Linked DNA regions of Homo sapiens. The protein of the gene in region 4 purifies or fractionates together with the protein of the main gene of each other region. This does not show direct contact. Each region holds a gene or a part of one and is shown on either strand. Other genes may lie near its edges.

Evidence for each region. The genes of interacting proteins can lie anywhere in the genome.
Region 1: the proteins of MCOLN3 (region 4) and COA1 purify together in Homo sapiens (affinity purification with mass spectrometry; 3 studies listed by BioGRID and IntAct, with this or other methods). This does not show direct contact.
Region 2: the proteins of MCOLN3 (region 4) and POMGNT1 purify together in Homo sapiens (affinity purification with mass spectrometry; 3 studies listed by BioGRID and IntAct, with this or other methods). This does not show direct contact.
Region 3: the proteins of MCOLN3 (region 4) and ABHD16A purify together in Homo sapiens (affinity purification with mass spectrometry; 3 studies listed by BioGRID and IntAct, with this or other methods). This does not show direct contact.

The regions. Positions count from the first base shown.
Region 1 is NC_000007.14:43,642,188-43,646,054, forward strand, and holds part of COA1 (cytochrome c oxidase assembly factor 1 homolog), read right to left. Parts: intron 3,213-3,867; coding exon 3,064-3,212; exon of another isoform or gene 3,059-3,063; intron 1-3,058. UniProt on the Homo sapiens protein: Component of the MITRAC (mitochondrial translation regulation assembly intermediate of cytochrome c oxidase complex) complex, that regulates cytochrome c oxidase assembly.
Region 2 is NC_000001.11:46,195,299-46,199,875, reverse strand, and holds the start of POMGNT1 (protein O-linked-mannose beta-1,2-N-acetylglucosaminyltransferase 1), read left to right. Parts: upstream 1-1,441; 5' UTR 1,442-1,540; exon of another isoform or gene 1,541-1,825; intron 1,826-2,004; 5' UTR 2,005-2,054; coding exon 2,055-2,174; intron 2,175-2,326; exon of another isoform or gene 2,327-2,514; coding exon of another isoform or gene 2,515-2,568; intron 2,569-2,791; coding exon 2,792-2,906; intron 2,907-3,026; coding exon 3,027-3,145; intron 3,146-3,386; exon of another isoform or gene 3,387-3,575; coding exon of another isoform or gene 3,576-3,674; intron 3,675-3,798; coding exon 3,799-3,864; intron 3,865-3,951; coding exon 3,952-4,065; intron 4,066-4,577. Other genes in the region: TSPAN1 (tetraspanin-1), read right to left, coding at 3,576-3,674. UniProt on the Homo sapiens protein: Participates in O-mannosyl glycosylation by catalyzing the addition of N-acetylglucosamine to O-linked mannose on glycoproteins.
Region 3 is NC_000006.12:31,689,554-31,693,355, forward strand, and holds part of ABHD16A (phosphatidylserine lipase ABHD16A), read right to left. Parts: intron 3,597-3,802; coding exon 3,474-3,596; intron 2,366-3,473; coding exon 2,251-2,365; intron 2,128-2,250; coding exon 2,026-2,127; intron 1,764-2,025; exon of another isoform or gene 1,205-1,763; intron 1,050-1,204; coding exon 986-1,049; intron 575-985; coding exon 525-574; intron 414-524; exon of another isoform or gene 152-413; coding exon 28-151; intron 1-27. UniProt on the Homo sapiens protein: Phosphatidylserine (PS) lipase that mediates the hydrolysis of phosphatidylserine to generate lysophosphatidylserine (LPS). LPS constitutes a class of signaling lipids that regulates immunological and neurological processes.
Region 4 is NC_000001.11:85,031,152-85,035,321, forward strand, and holds part of MCOLN3 (mucolipin-3), read right to left. Parts: intron 3,101-4,170; coding exon 2,947-3,100; intron 1,806-2,946; coding exon 1,721-1,805; intron 1,642-1,720; coding exon 1,545-1,641; intron 1-1,544. UniProt on the Homo sapiens protein: Nonselective cation channel probably playing a role in the regulation of membrane trafficking events. Acts as a Ca(2+)-permeable cation channel with inwardly rectifying activity.

The DNA.
Region 1 (3,867 bases), on a different chromosome or scaffold from region 4:
GCCTGTAATCCCAGCACTTTGGGAGGCTGAGGCAGGTGGATCACTTGAGGCCAGGAGTTCGAGATCAGCTGGGCAATATGGCAAAACCCCATCTCTACTAGAAATACAAACACTTAGCCGGGCATGGTGGCGCACACCTATAGTCCCAGCTACTCAGGAGAGTGAGGCAGGAGAATCGCTTGAACCTGGGAGGTGGAGGCTGCAGTGTGCCAAGATCACACCACTGTACTCCAGCCTGGGTAACAGAGCAAGGTTCCATCTCAAGAAAAAATTTTAAAAAAGAACAAATTTTCAGGGTCCCACTGTTTGAGTCAAGCTACAGCTTTTCTCTGGAAATTATAGAATTAAGCAACAGAGTATACACTGAGCATCTCTGGATGCTTTAAAAAAAAATTTAAAAAGGAAGGAGAAAGAAATGGGCAGAAGCAAGAAGGATTCTGAAGAAGAGCAAACTCTGAGGGGCCAATGTCTGAACTGTGGGCAGCTGTGCTTCCATGGGTAGATGTGACACTTTACAGGTTGGTTCCTTCACCAGCCAGACCTTGCCAAAGATTAAAGCAGGAGTTCTGGTAAAGCAAAGTGTTGGTCACTGGTGACTATCTCACACACATACTTGGGAAAAAATCCCAATGTATGACAATTACTTCATGAACAACTGAAACATCTCACCTCTGGAAAAACTGTAAAAATTGCAAATAAAGGAATTTGGGATAAGAGGGCATATGCTGTATACAGGCATCCTCACAAACCGCTGATTATAAAGAAAGGACCCTGACAGAATGTCAAAAATAGTCCACAAATTGGAAGGCGTGCACTGAGGCTCCAGGTGGCCATGATGCAGCAGACTCTGAACTCCTGTCACTGCAGAGTCACAGCATTTGGCCGCAGTAGAAGCCAGAACCTAGCACCACAACCAACATAGTCACAGCATGGCCAAGGCCCCAGGGATGTGGGGAAGCCCAGGAAGGCGCCCTCTCAGCACCACTGGGGCCAAAGTGAAAGCTGGACAGGACAAAGCTCCCACCAAAACCACCATGGCCTTACCCTACTCTCACTGGGGTTCCTGGAGCACCAGATCATGGATGCTGCATCAACCAGCCCCAGCAAAGGCGCCTTTGGCACACAATTCCTCAGTGCTACAGCTGGGCTCTGTGCTGAGAGAAACGCAACAGCCAGACCTACCCAGTGGCTTTTCCAAGTTCTCAGGATTGCTGGGGTCTAGCCAAGTGACCAAAGGCAAGGAAGCAACAGACAGGCTCCGCCACACCATGGGAGCAATCCGGTGGCCTGGCACAGAGTGAGCACTCCACACATGCCCAGCCCTTCCCTGTGCTCCTCCTCCAGGATGTCCTCTCTCACGCAGTGTCGCTGCCGTCCTTCCACTCACGTCCATGCTGGACACTGGACCATCACCTCTGACCCACCCGCTCCTGATACATGACTGTTACCAAGTTCTGTCACTTGGATGCCACGATGGCTTCACATCCGTCTTTTGCTTCTCCAGGCCACACCTCTGGTTCATGCTCTCACCACTGCACACCAGTGTGGCCACATCTCTCTCCTAAAGATGGCTCCCCGTAGCCAGTCCCTGGGCATTACCAATCTACACAAATCCACCTTCTTTTAAAACCGAATATTTTAATCAGAATACCAGAGCATGAATTGCTTTTGTAGTTAGAAAAAAGTCTCATTAGAGCTGGGTCCATTAAGAACATACTAAAAATAACAAAAAATAATGTAGGTCGGATCACCTCACTCATCCTCCAAATACTTTACGGGCTTCTGCTGCCAGAGTCAAGCACACACCTTCCAAGATGACACTGTGGCCCCTGGTGGCCGCAGCCCCTCCTACCTGCCCACACCCACCTCGCCCACCTGTGCCTCCACTGCCGTATCACACTGACAGGCGACACAGTGATGAACTTTCCCAGGCATGCTGCTCCTCAGCCGGGTGTTCCTCTCCACCTTTCAAAGTCCTCACAGCCATCTCCCAGGCCTCGAGCCACTTCCCCTAGGCCTGCACAATAGTGACAGGGTTTCCCTCACCCTGTCTTACTCAGGAATTTTCAACTGTAAACCCCCAAAAGCCTTCTGCACCTCTATTCCCCACATAGCTTAGAATCATTTCTCAAACCAGAGCATATACTCAAAATATGTTTGTTAAACAGAACAAATGTGTTTTACATGCAAGTGAGTGTGATCAAGTACAAAAAGATAAGTTATAGCTAAAAAAATGGGTTGGTATTCTGTGGAAGCAATGTAAATAAATACACTTTAAAAATCAAAGTTTAAAGAGTTGGGTACATTTGAATGAGCACTGACTGGATATAGATGCATTTCTCTTTTTTTTTTAATTTTACAGACAATTTCACTCTGTCACCCAGGATGGAGTGCAGTGACATGATCATAACTCATTGCAGCCTCCAACTCCTGGGTTCAAGCGATCCTCCTGCTTCAGCCTCCTGGGTAGCTGGGATTATAGGTGTGCACTATCACGCCTGGCTAAATTATAGATAGATAGATTAGATAGATAGATAGATAGATAGATAGATAGATAGATAGATAGATAGATAGGCAGGCAGGCAGGCAGGCAGGCAGGCAGGCAGAGAGACAGAGAGAGAGAGAGAGAGAGAGAGAGAGAGAGAGACAGGGTCTTGCTGTGTTGCCCAGGCTGGTTTCAAACCCCAGGGCTCAAGCAATCCTCTTACCTCAGCCTCCCAAAGTGCTGAGAGCTATCAAAGCCAACATGGTAGCAAACCACCACTGGTCATTTCTCTACTACCTTCAATTCAAGATGGCGACATCAGCATACCCACTGCATTCCCTGCCACATCAATTCCCCAGAATGGAAGAAAAGTATACAGAAATATCTATAATATAAAATATATTTTATATAAACATTAAAATCCATAATAGAAAAACTTTTTTTAAAGGTGCCAAACCTAGCTTTACTTAGTGGATTTTCCCATCCCAAATCCTTAACTCCAGGACTTTCCAGGAGACAGTAGACTCTCCTCTCCTTCAGCAGGCACCAGCCTGCGGTTCGCAGGGAAAGCACATTACCTTGGCATCAACAATGTCCACGAAGTTTTCCCTGTCGATGAGCTTGAGATAATGGATGTTGAGAGGAGGGCCCAGAGCTTCCTGTGCCTCGGGATGGCTCTGCAGCTGCTCCACTGCCAACTTGTAATATAAAGCCCTGGAATGAAACTCTAAGGACGAAAGACACACTTATTTTCTTTATTGAACTTGGTCAGGTAGAATCTACTACACAGAAAATTAAATAATCCAACTGACGTACAGGGTAGAAACAGAAACGTGAAATCTGTGGATGGACGAATAATTAAGGCCATCTACTCTAAATTGTCCATTTTACAGACTCAAAAACCAAAGCACAGGCAGGCAGTGTTTTGCAGGGATGTGCAGATGACCTTGGGCCTTGACCTCATGCAGACCCTTTCTGCTTCACCTCATTTCTACCCTCACTCATTGCCTTATTTTGACACCTAAGAGGTTTGGTCAGCTCTTCTCTAAGTTTCCTCTCAAGTCTCTAAGTTTGCTCTAAAGTCCTACTATGATTCCATGACTTGTTCAAAGTGACACAGCTGGTCCATGGCAAAGCCGAGGCCAGAATCCATGATACCTGACTTCTCAACACTGCCTGTTCCACTAAGTTGAGACATAAAATAGAAAGACCACAACATTAACAACAAAACCCTCAGGCCTAGAAACAGGATATGAAAATGTTCATTCATCAAGATTTAAGCCAACATTTCAACTCAAACTGCTCTCAGTCTCAGGAATCCTTCTGAGCCCACAGGCTACCTGGGAACTCCGGGAAGCACCTCCCTGAAGCTGTAAGTTCTA
Region 2 (4,577 bases), about 39 Mb from region 4:
TGTAATAAAATGTGTTGGGTTTTCTTCCATTCTTATACATACTTACTAGGAAAAATCATGTATTTCTTTAACTCCTAAGACAAGTACTGTTAACATTTCATTTTGGGGGATATTACCCCACCATTCAGGAAGCAGATGGAATACAGAAAGCTCAAAAAAATCTAACTGGTCTTCTGGCTTCCTCTGTCTGCTTCCAACCCATTCTCCACAAAAAAAGTAAAGGTTCTCTTAAAACAGAAATTGGATTATATTGCTCCCCTGCCTAAAACTGTTCTATGGCTATCCACTTCAAACAAGCATCAACATCACCTAGAAACTTCTCAGGAATGCAAAATCCCACCCTGCCCCAGACCACTGAATCTAAAACTCTAGGGATGGGGCCCAGCACCTCTGTTTTAAGAAGTCATCCAGGTGATTCTGACGCAAGCTAAAGTTTGAGAACCATTGTGTTAAGCTAACTGCTTTCTATGTATGATGTTATTTAAACCTGGCAATTCTTATGTATTGTTGCCAGCAGAGTGCAGTGGTTAAGAGCAGAATCTGGAGCTAGGCTGAGTTTCAATTCCACCTCTCCTAGCTTTGTGATATTAGGTCTTATTTCTTTATCTGCGACAGGGATAGTAATAGCGCCTATAGCCAGCACGGTGGCTCACTGCCCATAATCCCAGCACTTTGGGAGGCCAAGGCGGGCGGATCACTTGAGGTCAGAAGTTCAAGACCAGCCTGGCCAACATGGTGAAACCCCGTCTCTACTAAAAATATAAAAATTAGCTGGGTGTGGTGGCGCACGACCGTAGTCCCAGCTACTCAGGAGGCTGAGGCAGGAGAATCGCTTGAACCCAGAAGGCGGAGGTTGCAGCGAGCCGAGATGGTGCCACTGCACTCCAGCCTGGGCGACAGAGCGAGACTCCGTCTCAATTAAAAAAAAAACAATAATAATGATAATAGCGCCTACCTCATGGGGTTGTTGTGGAATTAAACATCATCAGTAAGGTGCTTAGAACAGTGACAGAACCTGGATTTTAATCTCCCTTGGCCTCCAATAGCTGTGCATGCCCCAGGACTAGGTAACGGCCTTGCCCAGGACGGGTATGGGGCGGGTGGTGTGTGCCCTGTGTCCAAGGGTTGCAGCCCCTCTGACCCTGGCGTGCCCTGTGATCTGGTCCAAGGTGCTAGGCCTCTGACTGGAGTCGGGCTTGCCATCGGCGGTGCTGGGGAGCGGGCTGCTCTCGTGCAGGCAGCCCCACCAGCCAGCCGGGCTGCGAAGCTGCCTAGCACGGTCTGAGCATTCGCCTTACTCGCTGGCTGCTTACACCCCGACGCCGCTGCCGCCACCGCCGCCGCCGCCGCCGCCGCCCTAAGCACCGCCCGTCGCCCTCTCACCCCGCGGCAGCGGCGGCGGCGGCGGCGGCGGAAGCGGGGGGGCGGGCCAGGCCGGGGCGGGGCCGCAAGCGGCATGGAGGAGGCGGAGGCCGCGGCGAGCCGGGCCGAGCAGTGAGGGCCCTAGCGGGGCCCGAGCGGGGCCCGGGGCCCCTAAGCCGTGAGTGCCTCCGCGTGGGTGTCCGGAACGGGTAGCGCTGCCGGTGCAGGTCTCCTGAGCCCTCGGGCGGCTCCGGGCCCTGGGAGGAGGAGAGAAGCTGGGGCAGATAGGATGGGACGAGGGTTGAAGACTGGGGCAGGAGAGGTCGCTCTTTGCTCACCACAGGCTTGGGAAGGCCTGGAACTTGGTCCTTGTAGGGGCTAACGAACTTTGAGCCGATTATTTGGCCTCCACCCTTGGACAGCCTTGATTCAGAGAGTTACTCCAGTCTCAGGGAATTTCCAGGTGATCCAACCCCACTGAAGGGTTTCCTGCCAGCCCAGAGAAGTTGAGCCACTTTCCCCATGTCACACAGTATGGGTGCTTGCAGGGAAGAGTTGCTGGGAGGTCCTCCCTCATCTCCCCAGAAGGCATCAGACTTTGGGAGGAGCATCTTACCCCATGTGGCCCTCTGGTCCCTTCAGATTCCTGAAGTCATGGGCTGGCCAGGACATTGGTGACCCGCCAATCCGGTATGGACGACTGGAAGCCCAGCCCCCTCATCAAGCCCTTTGGGGCTCGGAAGAAGCGGAGCTGGTACCTTACCTGGAAGTATAAACTGACAAACCAGCGGGCCCTGCGGAGATTCTGTCAGGTATAGAGATGTCCCAAACCCTCCCCACCGAGCGCTCCCTCCCAGCTTCCTCCCCACCTAAATCAGGCACTGGGACCCCTGTTGGCCAGCCCCAGTGGGAAAGGGGCAGCAGGTTCCTAGAGGGGAGACCTCTATGTGTCATGTCCCTATAGGTAATGATTTGAACCCAAAGTTCTGGAATCGGAACCCAAGTACAACTTCTAAGCTTCTGACGGAAGCCTGAAGTCTGATCAGGCTGGCTTTGCAGAGAGGCACACCCCTGTGAGGCAGTTAGGGCCAGGACCCAGGTCTGATCCCCCGCTTGGGTCCCTGGGCCTGGCTCCATCTCTAGAAACCAACAATGGAGGGGACCAAGGAAATCAAGGTCTCAAATAGAAGAATACAGGAGCACTGGGTAGGGAGGGCCCTAATGGAGGGGGAAGTGTCAGGGGAGGTTCCCTGGGGAAAGTGGCTGTGAAACTAGGCCCTGGTCAGGGGAGTAGAGCTAGGCAGACAGAGGAAGGGACAGGACCCAGTTTCTCTGGATGTCTTCACTGCAGCCAGGGCCCTCCTTTCAGAAAGACCCTCTAGGATCTGAAGGAGGTGCTCCTCTTAATCATCCCTACCCCTCCCCTCAGACAGGGGCCGTGCTTTTCCTGCTGGTGACTGTCATTGTCAATATCAAGTTGATCCTGGACACTCGGCGAGCCATCAGTGAAGCCAATGAAGACCCAGAGCCAGAGCAAGACTATGGTAGGGCTAGGCTAAGGATGGGGTAGGGGGCCTTGGATCTCACAGCTGGAGTGGCAGGCAGACCCTAAGCGGTGAGACTCTGCTGAGGAGACTATCTCCATGACCTGTTGTACCCCACAGATGAGGCCCTAGGCCGCCTGGAGCCCCCACGGCGCAGAGGCAGTGGTCCCCGGCGGGTCCTGGACGTAGAGGTGTATTCAAGTCGCAGCAAAGTATATGTGGCAGTGGATGGCACCACGGTCAGTGGGCCAGGGTCTGGTGTACAGTCACTCTATTCTGCTCAGGGCATGGTCCACTGGCAGCAGGGTCTACTGCCTAAGTGGGAACTGCAACTCTGCCAGTTTCTAGCTGTGTGACTTTGGAGTCCTCGATTCCTTATCTATAGACTGGGACTAATGATTTCTACTTGTCAGGATTCAATGAAAAGTTTGTGAAGTGTCTTGTATGTAGTGGGATCTCAAAAGTAATCATTCATAATAGTAGGCAGTCAATTCATTGATTTATTTTATAACCATCCCCTGGTCCTTTCTTTGGCCTCAGCCTTGTGCTGGGCACTGGGGACCTGAAAGTAATCAGACCTGGCCCTACCTTGAGGGGTTCAGTGTGGTGGAGGATTGTGATACTTCCAGGATGAAGCAGAGACAGCAGAGGCTCTAAGAGCCATGAAAGTCATGGAGGGGAGGGTTGTAGAAAGACGTGATCTCTTCTGATGGGAGTGCTATAGAGGCTTTCTGGAAGAGGTGGCCTTCGAGCTGAGTTGGAAAAGAACTGTGTGAACAGAAACATAGGCAGGAGGTGATGTTTCAAGCAGCTGGTGTTTTAAGTACCCCTAAGACAGAGACACCTTGAATGCCAGAGTGAAAAGCTGGACTTTGTCTCTGCCACTGTGTAGGTGCTGGAGGATGAGGCCCGGGAGCAGGGCCGGGGCATCCATGTCATTGTCCTCAACCAGGCCACGGTGAGTTTCTAGGGGTGGGTGACCCAGAGGGCTGGAGCTGGGCTCTTGCTGATGACACCAACTCACCAGAAGTATATCCCCTGCCAGGGCCACGTGATGGCAAAACGTGTGTTTGACACGTACTCACCTCATGAGGATGAGGCCATGGTGCTATTCCTCAACATGGTAGCGCCCGGCCGAGTGCTCATCTGCACTGTCAAGGTCAGTTATTCTGTCCTGACCCTGACCCCTACTCCCTAGCTCCAACCCTGCTTCTAGCCCCGGCTTCTCTGCCCCTCATATAACATAGTGGGAAGATTCTCTGAAGGAAGGTTACTCAGGTTCCAATCTCAGCCTTAACATTTGTATTAATTCAGCAAATAGTTATTGAGCAACAGCTGTATGCCAGGTACTTCTCTGGGTGCTGAAGATACAATGGGAAACAAGACAGAGTCCCCACCCTCATGGAGCTTATATTCCAGCAGTGGGAGGTCAACAGAAACAGCCAAGTAAATGTGGATAATGCTAGTAAATGATAACTTGTATAAAGAAGAAAATAAAGCAGGGGATAATGAATGATAGAGGGGAGGGGACATTTTAGAAAGAGAAGGCCCCTGCAAGGAGATGATATGTGAGCAGAAAGCTGAGGAATTGAGGAGTGAGCCAGGTGAGTATCTGGAGGAAGAGCATTCCAGGTGGAAAGAATGGCAAGTGCAAAGCCCCTATAGTGGGAA
Region 3 (3,802 bases), on a different chromosome or scaffold from region 4:
AGTGGGGGATGGGAGGGAGGCTGGTACCAGTGAAGCCGCCGATGGACCAGGCGTAGATGATGATGTCCTGGGGCTGGAAGCCTAGGCGGTGGATGGCAAACTGGACCACCACATCCATGGCATTAGCCTCATTCTGCGGGAATGGCACCCCCTGCAGGAGAAAGGGCAAAGTCAGGAGTGTGTCAGCACCAAAGGCCAGCTCACCTGTCCCTCCCAACGTGGACCCCTCCTGCAGCCACCTATGACAGGCAGAGAAGGTGTAGAAGGAAGGGATGGTAGGAGAGGTTGTTCTCTCCAGAAGACGGATGTGTACAATGAGATCTACCTCCTCCTCTCCTGCTAGCCCCGCACTGTGGGGATGGGGGCATGGCTCCCAATGCTGCCTTCACAACCTCCTAGACCCCAGCCCTCAGGTGAGTGGGACGCCTTCAAGAAATCCACAGCCCCTCTCCTCCCTCCAATGGCTGACCAGAGGGAAACAGACATAATTCAGGAAAAGGAAGGGATTCCTGAGATGGTCTCACCGTGCTTCCAGCAAAGCCTGGATGATTCCAGCCCAGGACTGAATATCCAGCTGTAACACAGGGGGAGGAGGGACTGAGACCTTGTGGCCCACAGCCCTTTCTCCATCCCTGGGGGAAGGAAGAGCAGAAGTACCCCCCAGCTTAGATGCAAATAACTCCAAGCCTTCCCAGAAATAGGAGATGACACCAGAGGTTCTGAGGCAGCACAGGGAGCAGCATGTGATTGTGTGGGGTGTGTGGTGGGGGAATGGAACAGAATGAAAAGCATAATAGCTAGGGACACAGGCCAGGGGAGGGATGTAAGGTTATCAAAGCAAATGGCGAGTGGACTTTTCCCTAAAGCTGAGAGACTCAAAACCTCACCCAGAGAAAGCAGAGGCCAGGGGAGGTCAGGTCAGTGTGGGAGGCAGGGACATTCCCTTTCAAAGGGCGGAGATAAGGAGGCTGAGTCACCGTCCTACCTTCCAGGGGCGTGGAGACGCAGCCCACCTCATAAAACCCAGCATTCCCCTCACAGCAGATCACCTAGGAAGGAGGCAGGAAGGAAGGGCTGGGGGGCCAAGTTGGGACTGAAAAACTCCCTTTGGGCAGGGAGGGCAGCCCATGAAGAGCTTTGCAGGGAAGAGGAAAGGGCAGGTTTCTGTTTTCTCCAAGGGGAATGGAAGCTTCTCATTCCACAGGGTCCATAAGAGGAGAAGCAAAGGGATTACAAATACTCCTCAGAGGCTGACCTGCTCGACCACCCAGCCATGTCTTTTCCTTGGAAGATTACCAGCTGGATCTCTTTCAGGAAGGGGACTATGGAGATGTTTTTCCTTTCTCGTTTTCGGGTCTGTTATCTTCTGTGACCATTGCTATTGTGTGGTATGCTGATTGCTCTCCCTATCCCTCTCTGAGCTCCAGTCTTATGGTCAGATAAACTGTAATGCCATGGCGCCCCAAGCTGAAACCCACGAATGGTGGGATTTGCATGAACTCTCATAACAGATGGGCAGAGCCAGGACTAGAACCCAGCTCCCTAGACTCCTGGCTTAGCGCTCTTTCCACGGCTGCTTCATGGAGGTAGGAGACTTTGAGGCCAGGCTGCCTGGGTCCAAATACCAGCTCTACCACTTACTGTGAGGTCCAGGAAAGGTTTTCTGTGCCCCAGTTTCATCTCCTGTAAAATGGGCTAATATAAGCAGTACCTATCTCACGGGATTCTTTTGAGAATTAAATATATATGCTTCATATATATATGAGAATTAAATATATATAAGTGTGAAGTGCTGTCAAAGTGGTAACTATTAATATTAGTTTCTCGTCCTTGAACGTCTCTCCTACTTCATCTGTTTCTCTATCACAGGGTTTCACTACATCACAAGGTCTTTAGCGTGGAGCTAGGACATGAGATTATCCCCAGTAGTGGTTCCTTCAGGGAGGTGCTATAGCATTGGGGTCCCCAGACCTCTACTGCCTTCCTCACACTCACCCCACCTCTGGGCTCTCTGCTCCCTCTTACCAGCTTCTGTCCCTGGGGCTCAGCTGTCCCCCGCCGGTCCACAAACATGGTGTCAATCTCATTGCCATCACAGGCCAGCAGCTTTGCCCGGCGCCCATTACACTGAGTACGGAAGACGCAATGGCCAAGATGCAAGGGTCAGGAGGCCACATCACAGGGGTGGGGCGGGGTGGGTGGGGGTGAGAGGGGAGGGCTTTAGGGGATGTGCGGGCAGGGAAGCCTCACCTCTTCCACCAGTCGGGCCTGGCCCTGCAGCAGCACAGGCATGAGGGCCTTCTGCAGCAGGTACACAGAGCCTGGATACAGCATCCGGCGCCCTAGGGTGTGCGCCACCAGGTAGCTGTGGGGAACACAGGTTAACAAACCCCAACCCTGTTGAGGCCTGGGGACTGTGCTGGGGACCATCCCAGCCCTAGCACTCACAGACTGTAAGGCCTGCTTTACCCCTGACCTTCACAGCTTTACTTTCCTCTTTCAAGCCTTAATGAAATATGTACCAGGCTAGTGTTTTGCAAACTTTTCTTACTGCAACCTTTGTAAGATAAACATTTTATATTGTGGCTCAGTGCACACATATCCTGTATGTACAGAATTCTGAGAGTTTTATGATGTAACTGTCTATACATAATAAGTAAATGCAAAGTTATCATCAGATTATGATTCTGTTAAAATATAAGTACAACATATTAAAGGTCCCCAAATAAATAATGCTTTAAAAAATGATGGTTATAATTCAAAACCTCAAATATGGCTTGCCTCCCTGACTAATTAGCACACTGTCAACAACCAACCACTAAGTCCACCCTGTTCCTTGGTATTCTAGAAGCTGCCTCCTAACTCCCAGCAAAAGAAAATTCCCAGTGTCTGTTCCACTATAAGATATAGGTGGTTATTTCCGTTCCTTCTGACATCATCAGTACCCACGACTGAGCTTTATTTGGGATTTACCATGTGCTCTCAAGCACCCAGGCAAGGCAGGAGCCCTTCAGAACATGTTACCTTACTTAATCTCCTCAGCAACCTTGCAGGGCAGGTTCATCACAGGTGCAGACACTGAGGCACACAGGGGCCCGGAGCCAAGGTGGAATAACAACAGGGCAGAGGGGCCACGATGGGTACACAGATGCTACCAGAGCCTGCCCTAGCTACAAGTGTGTGTCCTCCCCACCCCCACCCCACCCCCACTGCTCCTTTTCAGCCTCACTGAAGGAGCTTTTGTTCATATCCCAGTTCTTTACTTACTACATTTGAGACTCCAGACCTCTCTGAGCCTCTTTTCTTCAAACATAAATATGGATAAAAATGACTTTGCCATAAATGATCTACACAAACCATACAGCACTAGGCCCAATGAGTGACAGCTATTTTACAATGGAGCGCCCACTCCCAGAGCACTCCTGAAATGGCCCCTCCACCCCAGTGGGCCTCTCCTCGCTGCTGTTTCCCACCTGGTGATCTGACAAGGCAGCTTCTTAACCCGGTTGAGGAGGGTGTCTGCTGTCCCCCGGTGCAGGGGCTCTGGGCGAAGCAGGGCCACACCCCGGCGGGAAGGGCCCCCTCGAGACTCCTTCCTGAGGAAGGGAAAGATGCAGGGAAGGATAGGGTCAGGAGCAGCAAGCTGGATGTCTGAGGTCTGGAGAACAGTGGGGTCTAGGAACGACATAATGGCATTGGAAGGCAGGCACTGTGACCTGAGAGGGCATGGAGGTGGGAGGGCAGAGCAGAGATTTTCTGGAATGGTTCTAAGGGGAGAGATACAGCAAAAGAACTGGGGCCT
Region 4 (4,170 bases):
TCCCAGCTACTCCGGAGGCTGAGGCAGGAGAATCGCTTGAACCCGGGAGGCAGAGGTTGCAGTGAGCCAAGATCACACCACTGCACTCCAGCCTGGCAATGGAGCGAGAATCCATCTCAAAAAAAAAAAAAAAAATACAGTGAGATGGGAGAAATAAGATCTAGTGTTTAGTAGCACAATATGGCAACTATAGTTAATAATTTATTTTATATTTCAATATAAATAGAGGAGTAGATTTAGAATATTCTCAACATAAAAAAGTGGTAAATATTTGAGGTGGTGAATGTTGTCCCAATTACCCTTATTTCATCATTACACACTGAATGCTGGCATCAAAATATCACCTGTACCCCATAAATACGTATTCGTAAAATTTTTATTTAAAAGATGCTAATAAGAACTTTAAAAAGGAAGGCAAAATACTTTTTTAAACATACAAAAGCTGAAAGTGCAGACCTGCACTGTAAGAAATGTTGCAGGAAGCCCTTCAGGCAGAAGGAAAATAATACCAGATACAAACTGGGAGCTACACACAGAATGAAGCACACTGGAAATGGTAGCTACATGGGCAAATAAAAAAATGTTTTTATTATTATTTAAATCACTTTAAAAGATAATTGACTGTTTAAAGAAAAAATAGGCTGGGCACGGTGGCTCACGCCTGTAATCCCAGCACTTCGGGAGGCTGAGGCAGGTGGATCACGAAGTCAGAAGATCGAGACCATCCTGGCTAACGCGGTGAAACCCCGTCTCTGCTAAAAAAAAATACAAAAAATTAGCCGGGCATGGTGGCGGACGCCTGTGGTCCCAGCTACTCAGGAGGCTGAGGCAGGAGAATGGCGTGAACCCGGGAGGCGGAGCTTGCAGTGAGCCGAGATCGCGCCACTGCACTCCAGCCTAGGTGACAGAGCGAGACTCTGTCTCAAAAAAAGAAGAGAGAGAGAGAGAGAGAGATTAATAACATATATTGTGGGTTTATAACACATGTAGAAATACATTATATGGCCACAATAGCATGAGGGCCAAGATGGGAGAAATGGAAGTACATTGTCGTAAGGTTCTTACACTGTGTGCAGTGGTATAACTTGAAGGTAGACTGTAATAAGTTAAAGATGTATACTACAAACCCCAAACATGGAAACATCCATGGTGAAGACACTAAGTAACAAGAACCCTTGGCAGTAACCTTTAGCTGACAGCCAGCCATAGATTGCTGAGAGCCAACCACACAGAACCTAAAAACACCTATTCCTTTTGGGTTTGAAAATCTATACCAGGCACTGTTCGTGGTACTGGAAATAGTAGTGAACAAAACAAGGTCCCTGCTTTTCTAGAACTTATACAGAGGTGTAGAAGACATAACTAACAAGTAAACTTGTTATTATAGCAAAATAGAGCTAGATGTATCAATGCTTCCCTTATGCACATTCAAGTGAAAACATCCTATATTTTTTTATCACACCGTAATCCAAGGATATGAAACATTACCAGATAAAACAATTTTTCTCCAGACTGGAACCAAATTCAGCCTGGCCCACACTTACAGTCAGAGTAAAGTCATAACAGTCAGGGAGTTCTTGATGACGAACTGTCTGCAGATTAATGGCTTTCAGTTTAAACTGAAGCTCCACTGTTAGGAGTCTAGAAAACAGAGGTGATTTTAGTTCTGTGGCAATATATACGTGCAAACGTAAGTTACACTCCTGTCTGCTCCCCTCACCTGTGGAAGTCCAGTGTTAAGTTCAGTTTATTTTCTGCTGGTGTCCCAATGTGAAAAGGTTCATCTGGCTCCACAAAGAAACACTCTGCCATAGAAAGGAACAAAAACATGATACAGTACTTAAATAAGACTGCATTTTGAAAGGCTGATACATTTAAGACCAGTTATTCAGATTCTATTATTTTTCAGATTCTATTATTTTTCTGAATTAAAATTTTAAAAGCTAAATAAACATTGATACCACATGGTTACCGTGACTCATGTGTTTTTAAGACCTAAGTGGCTACATTTCTGGAGTGGATGGAGGCTAGACAAAGATCTGAACTCTATTTCATTAATGTTATATAAATGCTGTCTTCGTTTTTAAGCCTAGATAAACTTTGAGTCCCTCCCCCTTTTTGTATCCTAAGCATAGGATTTGAAGCACTTGCAGTAATTACAGTAATATTTTCTAAGCAGTTTGAGGGATCTATTTTTAAAATATTATGCACTAACAATGTTTCTTCAATAGACATCCCACACACACACCAAAAAAGGAAGACAGCATTTTAGAAAGTTTTCCCTTTCAGTACTGTTATCAGTATTATCTCTAGAAAAAAAAATCCTAGTGGCTGTTGTTAAAAGTATTTCAATACTTATTTTTTAACTCAATGACCTAAGCTAATATTTTAGGCATAATTGCAAATAGAACTTTGCTAAGAAGAATACGCCATGCTATTCCATGTTCTGATTTTCATTCCTCCCCTTCAATCTACCCCCAAAGATGCATGATAGTGAAGTGGTATTGGGGCAGGAGAGTTTTATATATACCAAGAGTTTGCAAGCATAATGTTTTACAAACATTATATCTATCTATTAATACTTCACTGGCATATCCTGCACAAGAGATGGTGGAATACGATAGCTAAGAACACAAACAGCCTGAGCCCAATTTCAGCACTGCCTCTTCTAGCTCCATCTTTGGCAGATCATTTAACTCTCTGAGCCATAATTTAGTCTTCTATAAAAGGGGATAATAATAATCCTTGACTTGCTGGGTTTCCTTGAGGATTCTTGAGTTATAGTAAAGGGCTCAGAACAGTACCTGACACATAATAACTCGTATATCATTCTTACTATGTCCTAATATCACAGACCAAATCAATGTTTTCAAAGATGAAATTACTAATTTTAAATATAAATTGAGGTGTTAAAAATTGAGGTTCTAGGTTATAGAAGAACATCACCAGTTTCAATTTCTGGATCGATGTCAAAGGTATCATTTCCAGGGTAGATGTTTCCTCGCTTGTAGAAGTGCTGACAGATTGCCATAGCAGATTGCTTGGTACCTTTGTTCTCATAAGCATGATTCCCAACGGAGACATTGTATAGCTGCAAGTACTTCAACCAAAATGAGAAACAGAAAATGGGAATGCCAGCCAGGGCAGGAGTGAAGCCATAACTCCCCTCCCTCCCCACCTCTGATCCTGGCAGGTTCCCTTGGGATAGAGACATTCACTTTGATAAACAGGGTAAGTGACTTGCTGCTGTGCACTAGGAAGGCAAAGGGCACTCACAAATTAGAGTTCTAGATTCAAGCCTCATTTCTGTGACAAACTTTCTGACCTTCTAGTTCCTGATCTGTAAAATTAAAGTCTGAAGCCACATACTCTTTGCATTTCTTTCCTCCCTTAAAGAATTATGTTTAATTCAGGTGATATTCAATGTAAATACATATTTATCTTTAAACTATCTCCTGTAAGGTCAGAGTTCTACTTTAACACTGTAGTATAAGAAGTGGGATACAATTATTATAGGCTAGCCAGCAAAACCTTTTTTAAAGAAAGTATTGGTTTAACCTTTATCTTTGCAAGATTATAATTTAATCACCTTTATACCAATATTGCCTATCCTAGTGGGTCCTCTACATTTAAAAAAATTACTTTTACAAGTAAGAATCTTACGGTGCCTTGGAATAACTGTCATCTTAAATTCTTAATGGATGTCTGCAGACATGTTTCCAAAACAAAGTGTTTTTGGAGCAATATGTCTGGTACAGTTGGTCATTCTGTCACTCTTGAAATGAACAACTTTGTGTGATCGACACATAGAAAATAATTCTGCTAAAAGATATGAGTGAAGCATGCTATGACAAATGAATAAAATAATTTCTAATATGGGATGGATTTTGAGTTGGACCTTGTCAAGGTCACTAATGAGCAGTGTATTACCAAATCTGATGCCTAGTTCTCAGTCCTCCTATAACTTGACATCTCCATGGTATTTGATGCAGTTGAATGCTCCTCCTACACGGAATACTTTCTTTACTTGACTTCTGGGACACTGATTGTTTCTTCTTGGTCTCCTTTGCTGAAATCCTCCCACTGCCAACCTCTATATTTTGGCCTATCTTTGGGTTCAGGCCTTGACCTCTATCCACATTCTCTCCACAGCTGACTTCAACCAGTCCC